Homo sapiens: one gene and its partner. The protein of the gene in region 1 interacts with the protein of each later gene in a pairwise test. Each region holds a gene or a part of one and is shown in the gene's direction. Other genes may lie near its edges.

Evidence for each region.
Region 2: the proteins of CERT1 (region 1) and RTN4 interact in binary tests that used the Homo sapiens proteins (3 or more experiments, as listed by UniProt).

The regions. Positions count from the first base shown.
Region 1 is NC_000005.10:75,396,630-75,400,129, reverse strand, and holds part of CERT1 (ceramide transfer protein), read left to right. Parts: intron 1-742; coding exon 743-820; intron 821-3,500. UniProt on the Homo sapiens protein: Shelters ceramides and diacylglycerol lipids inside its START domain and mediates the intracellular trafficking of ceramides and diacylglycerol lipids in a non-vesicular manner.
Region 2 is NC_000002.12:55,043,952-55,047,451, reverse strand, and holds part of RTN4 (reticulon-4), read left to right. Parts: intron 1-125; exon of another isoform or gene 126-636; intron 637-3,500. UniProt on the Homo sapiens protein: Required to induce the formation and stabilization of endoplasmic reticulum (ER) tubules. They regulate membrane morphogenesis in the ER by promoting tubular ER production.

The DNA.
Region 1 (3,500 bases):
AGACGGAGTCTCACTCTGTCACCAGAGTGGAGTGCAGTGGCGCGATCTCGGCTCACTACAGTCTCCACCTCCCGGGTTCAAGAGATTCTCGTGCCTCAGCCTCCCTGGTAGCTGGGATTACAGGCATGTACCACCACACCCAGCTAATTTTTGTATTTTTAATGGAGACAGTTTCACCATGGCCAGGATGGTCTTGATCTCCTGACCTTGTGATCCACCCACCTCAGCCTCCCAGAGTGCTGGGATTACAGGCGTGAGCCACCATGCCCAGCCGGAAATATCTTGTAGTATATAAGTTTTCTCCCCTTTTCATTAATTTAAGTAATGAGACTGTTTTTGGTTTTATATATTGTATTCCATATACATCCTCCAAAACAGTTAGAAATTTTGTTCTGAAAATAAAGTTCTTTCATTTTTATTTAAGGGGAAAGTTGGGGGTGGGCAAATAAGGAGTGGCTAGTCCAAAATAGTTAACCAGAAGTATATCCAGTTATACTAAATCTCTCTCTTCTTTGGGGTTAAATGGTATTACTTTGTATTATTGGAAGCACTACATTCTTTTTTGGAATGATTTTGGAACATAATACATAATAGGTGCATGAAGTCAGCAGTTGCTGCTGTGCTTGTTTCATATAGTGCTTTGTTTTCTCTTCCCTTTATCTTGTGTTTGGAAGTTGGTACTGAATGCTCTGTTGTGCCTTTGTTCTGATTACTTGGTTTTTTCTTTGTCTGTCTCTGGTAGCCCTATAGTCGCTCTTCCTCCATGTCTTCCATTGATCTAGTCAGTGCCTCTGATGATGTTCACAGATTCAGCTCCCAGGTACTGTATGAATGTATAGAGTGGACTTGAGTCTTTCTGTGCTATATTTCAGCCTGCTTTCCCAGTTCCTAGAAATCTTTTGGTTAGGCCACTGATTTTAGTTTTGAATTTTAAATAGTAACATTAAGCATTAAAAAGGTCTTCCTTGTCTACTAAATAGTTCCTCTGTCAGGTTTGCATGTGTCCTTTACTATTCACAGCTTGGAATTTTGTCATATAGGAGGTACTCCAGAAAGATTTTCAAACTGAATTGAAACAAATAGAAGATACTGGGTTTTGTATATCATGTAATATCTGTTTCTTCAGTCAGGATTTAGCAGTTTTGATGGACGTGGTCTATATGATATGTTATAGCAGAAAAGCAGATTTTAACAGTCTCACTTTTAAGCTAAAGTATCTCCAAATTATATTCAACAAGGAAATCACTTTTTAATAATATGTTTCATTTCCATTATAATACTAAGCTCTATTGAGCAGATTGTGTTTTCCTTATGCAAATTACCTTTGGATATTATAAATGAATATTTCTGTTCATATGCTAAATCTATGGAAATTTGTTTTAATTTTTAGCATTGGTAAGGGTTTAGGAATTTAAGACAGGAAGCTGGATGCTTGCGGTCTCTAAAGTCTGTACCCTCAAAATAAAATCAGATTACCATTGGAAGAAGTTTTTTTTAGTGTCAGCGTTAGTTCTTTTTTTAATTTTCTTAATCTTCACATCTTTGCCATTCAACTTTTTATCTTTCTGGTGATTGCATTTTATTGGACTAGATTATATTATGTTAATCTTATATTAAAGACCTGAGCACTCTGGTCAGAATGACTCAGTTTAAACCCTGGTTAGGTGTATGATCCCAGTAAGTTTTCTAACTTTTTTGTGCTTCATTTTTATGATTTAGCTAGAACCTGACACATAATAAGTGCTCAATAAATGTTACCTTGTATTGCTATTATAACATAATTTCTTTGAGCTAATAAAAGTTATCTACATCATTATTTTTTCCTCTGTGAGAGTATTGCTATAAAAGTTTTTAAAAGTCATAGTTTAAAGAGATTTCTATTATTTTTATGTTTATAAATAAAGTTTACATTAGTTTTTAACCTGCAATAGAGAAGAATATTAAGACTTTAATTTTTCTGACTTGTACAGCGTTTTTCTCCTTGAATACTCTTAAGAAAAAGATTTAGCAATTCTGGATCAGAAATCATCCATAACCAAATATACCACAGTATATTTTACCTTTTGCTTGTCCATTTATGCATTTTTTTTTAATTTTACTTATTTATTTTCGAGACAGGGTCTTGCTCTGTTGCCCAGGCTGGAGTGCAGTGGCACGATCTGGGCTCACTGCAACCTCCATCTCCCAGGTTCAAGCAATTCTCCTGCCTCAGCCTCCCAAGTAGCTGGGATTACAGGCACGCACCACTATGCCCAGCTAATTTTTGTATTCTTAGTAAAGACGGGTTTTCACCATGTTGGCCAGGCTGGTCTAGCACTCCTGACCTCGTGATCTGCCCACCTCGGCCTCCCAAAGTGCTGGGATTACAGGTGTGAGCCACCATGCCCGGCCCTGCGTATGTTTTTAAAAAGAGACTCATATTCATAATGAATCTGTGACAAAACTACATAATACTGGGAGACTTTGGTTTATTGTGCTAAGCTCCACATTGCATTAAAATCATATCACAGACTAATCAAAAATGCAGGAATACATAGGCTATAAATGAAAGAAAATATAATGACAGCAAAGAAAGAATGTAAGCCAGTAATAAAGAATGCCTAAGAATTAGGGGTTCAGAACCCAAACCAGGGCCCTCACTGTAGTGCTGTAGAACAGCTGAATTGCTTTTAAGTCCAGGTAACTATATCACTGAGAAGCAGGTGCCTATATTTTTACAAAATTTTGCTGACAGCTTACTTCTTCGTAATATTAATAACCTTTTGTAAAACTCATGTATGTAACTTGAGAGAAATCTTGCTGGATTTTTTTCTCTAATATATGGTGCTCATGATTGATCAGATCCTGTTTTAGCCTTTGATTATGTACTGTTTTATATGCCAGAAGAGGTAAAAATGAAGAAAATAACATTAAGGTCTTCAAGTATTTGTTGTCCTTGCTAAAGCATTAGTTGTCATTAGCAGACGTGGACTCTAGCAATTCACTGTTGTAATTAAATTGTGTGCCTTATGTTCAGCAGTTCCTTTATAATAGATGACTAATTCCCAATTGATAAGATTTTTTGTTTCAGAGGATGTTACACTGCCTTATCAGCCATTATCAAAGGATCTAGCAAGTTGATTCTGTATAGTCACACTTGAGAATATAGCATTGGATGTAGATCTGGAGTTAATATTAGTTGAGAAACATTGTGTTATCTGGAAAACTCTTCCAGTTCAACACAGTGTAAAATTATAGTAGTGACTATACAGTAGTGTTACATTTTACAGTTCTCACACCCTATAGAGACTTTTGTATTAAGCAAAATAAGAGGCTCAAAGGTTATTCATTAACATTAGAAACACTTATGTTATATTACATTGCATCGGTCTTTTCTGTTTTTTGTTTTTTTTTTTTTTTTGAGACGGAGTTTCGCTTTTGTTGCCCAGGCTGGAGTGCAATGGTACGATCTTGGCTCACTGCACCCTCTGCCCCCTGGATTCAAGCGATTCTCTTGCCTC
Region 2 (3,500 bases), on another chromosome or scaffold:
TAGAAGATGAGGAGTAACTCAATCTTTTCCTTTTTCTTTATGAAAAAGACATACTTGAGGGAAACTGAGGTAAGAGAAAAATATGAAATATATTTTTAAACAGGAATTTTTTTTTTTTTTTTTTGAGATAGTCTCCCCCTTGTCACCAGGCTGGAGTGCAATGACGCAATCTTGGCTCACTGCAACCTCCGCCTCCCAGGTTCAAGTGATTCTCCTGCCTCAGCCTCCCGAGTAGCTGGGATTACAGGCGCCTGCCACCACGCCTGGCTAATTTTTGTATTTTTAGTAGAGACGGGATTTTACCATGTTGGCCAGGCTGGTGGTCTTGAACTCCTGACCTCCAGTGATCCACCCACCTTGGCCTCCCAAAGTGTTGGGATTACAGGCATGAGCCACTGCGCCTGGCCACAGGAAGTTTAATGATTGACAAAAGCATACTAATCTTGTATTGGTATGGGAACAAAGAAAATAGTTCTGTCTTTGAACATTAGGGATTCAGGGGGTGACAGCACTCTCTTGGAATCTTGTGTGTTGGAATGCTGAGGTTGGAAGGCAATGGGGAAAGAATATTGCCTGTTCTACAGAGTTCCCTAATTCCATATTGATGATACCTATTGGGAAACTTTAGTTTTTTTAGTAAGTGTAAGAACATTGTGATTATGGTTGTGGATAGTTAACCATTTTCAATGTGTCTGGATTTCTTAATGCATTCAAGAGTTTGTTCATTAATTCAACCCATTATTGATTACCTACCAAGAGACAGGATCTATTCTAAGCTTTGAGGGTATAGCAATAAGCAAGACACATGCTCCCCCTTGGGAGAGTACAGATAATAAGCACATAAATAAAGAACCCAGAATAGTGGTGTTATGAGGAAAATAAACAGGATAATGGCATAGAGAATGATGGGGATTTATGGGGGCTTTTTTAGGTTAGGTGACACTAAGACAGGCTTAGAAGGTGAGATTTGAGCTGCAGAGAGAAAACATTTCCAAGCAACTTCAGGGCAAAACCCTGAGGCAGGAATGAGCTCTTTGTGTCTGAGAATCTAGTGTAAGACTAGTGAGAAAAACTAGTGGGAGAGTGAAGAGGTGGCCTTACCCACCCAGATCATTGGGGGTCTCTAACAGGCAATGGTAAAAATGTTTAGCTTTTTAAAAAAATAAAAATATGCTTATTAAATAATTATATTGTGATTTTGGAACTAAAATAAGTTTGGAAGATTCAGGGCTACTGAGAGGACTGATGTGAGACAAAGGTGAGAAATGTGCAGAGCAGGGTTAGAAGCATAGACTAGCCTGCCTGGAAGAGAGGGTTTCTAGATCACTGACACTTGTCTGTTTAACATTGCTGTTTACGTTATTTATGAGTAAGCCCTGATTTTCATCTGTTAATAAGTTGTAATTTTACTGTTTGCTGTTGTGCCCAGAGCATCTCCATCGCAATGCAGTAACTGAAGTGAGACTAAAACCTCTCACTTGAGGGCCATTTTTCATGGGAAAATACTTGGCTTAGTGGTTGGTTAAGTTAGGCTTTGAGGATATGCGCAGAAAACTCTGGCTAGAAATCGATTTGAGAGCAGTGCAAACATAATTAAGGGTGACTTCGAACTGGTCTCTGGACATGTTCTAAACCAAGGTTAATTAAGACCGAAAATATGTAGATCTGGATTCTGAAAGATACTGAATGCCAAATTAAGGAATTTGGATTTTATCATTCCACTTTAATCCATGCTCTGCTATCCAGTTGCCCTTGCTTTTGGTAATTTATATTATGAAACCAAAATTGTTTTTTTTAATTGTTGTTTCTAAAGTTATTGTTTTTCACCCCTTCTCGAATTAGAGCTTTTGGCTTTGGGAAGACAGCCATTGAAGGTTATTTGAACTGAGGCAAGGCACCGTGAAAGCAGTATTAGAAAATTGGTGACAATATTCAAGATAGGTGGGAAGGAAAAGCAGATGAATTATTTAGAAAGCTATTACAGTAGTTCTGAGAAAGATGAGTAGGGCCTGAACTATTTCATTATTTGTTCATTCAGTGAAAATGGAATAGAAGGGAGGAATATAAGAGTATAAGAAGCACGCTTTCTTTAATTGGCTGTGAATCTGTTTTTATAGTTAGTTTACGAAGAGGCTGTATGAAAGACGAATTGATAGGACTTGGAAACCATGAATGTAAAGACAAAGAAAAGAATATTAGTGCTTATTAAATCAGTTTCAGAGACTGCCAAAATTTAATTGCCATGAAAATTTGTATAAAATTGAATATTGCTCATAAATACAGATTATGGGTTGGGGCTTAAAAATTACTAGTTTTTACTATCATGAAGCCATTTATTATATGATCATTTTTATTGGCGTAGTAGCATGTATTAGAAATTTTAAGATTTTGAGTGACATATGGTTTAAATATTAGGTATCAGTTCTTAATATAAAGTCCAAGTTCCCAGGAAGTGGATGCTTCTAAACACAAGAAAGTCATGCCCTGTCCATTCCCCACTTTCATTTTTGTGATTCTGAATAATTTCTGGTTAAGCCATTTCTTATTTTTAAAAGTTGGGAATAAGTAGTATACTCCTCATGGATATGGTGAATTATGTTTCAGATTGGTTCCTGGGCAACTGAGTGTCAAATTTGTGGTCTTTTTTTTTTTTTTTTTTTTTTTTTAGTGATTTGCAAACTCTCTCAAATCCTTTTTAAAATGAAGTGATGGGTATATGTGGAACCACTGATAAATAACTGCATGGAATAGTGTTTAGAAAACATGCTATTTTAGTGCTATATTATTGTAAACTTAAAGGATTTGCCATGTTATAAAAACATTTCTGAAAAGGAGCATGTTACCTATTGTCCATTAATTGGCTTTGTTTTATGTGTAGTTATTTTCTTTTTAAAAATCTAAAAACCAAAAAACAATGGTCTCACTTTTGTCCAGGCTGGTCTCAAACTTGGGGCCTGAAGCAATCCTCCTGCCTGGACCTCCCAAAGTGCTGGGATTACAGGCATGAGCCACCATGCCTGGCAAGTTTTTTTGTTTGTTTGTTTGTTTGTTTGTTTCTTTTGAGACAGAGTCTTACTCTGTCGCTCAGGCTGGAGTGCAGTGGCATGATTATGGCTCACTATACCCTTGACCTCCTGGGCTTAAGCAGTCCTCCCACTTCAGCCCCCCAGGTAGCTGAGACTACAGGTGCACACCACCATGCTGGCTATTTTTAAAATTTTTTAAAAAAACTTTTATATTTATGTATTTATATTTTGGAGACAGGGTCTTGCTCTTTCACCCAGGCTAAAGTATAGTGGTGCAGTCTTGGCTCACTGCAGCCTCATCTTCTGGGCTCAAGTGATCCTGCCACCTCAGCCTCCCAACTAGCTGGGACCACAGGCACGTACCACCACGCCCGGCTAATTTTTGTGTTTTTCGTGCAGATAGGGTTTCGCCATGTTGCCCAGGCTGGGCTCAAATTCCTGAGGTCAAGCAGTCTTCTCGAAGTGCTGGGTTTA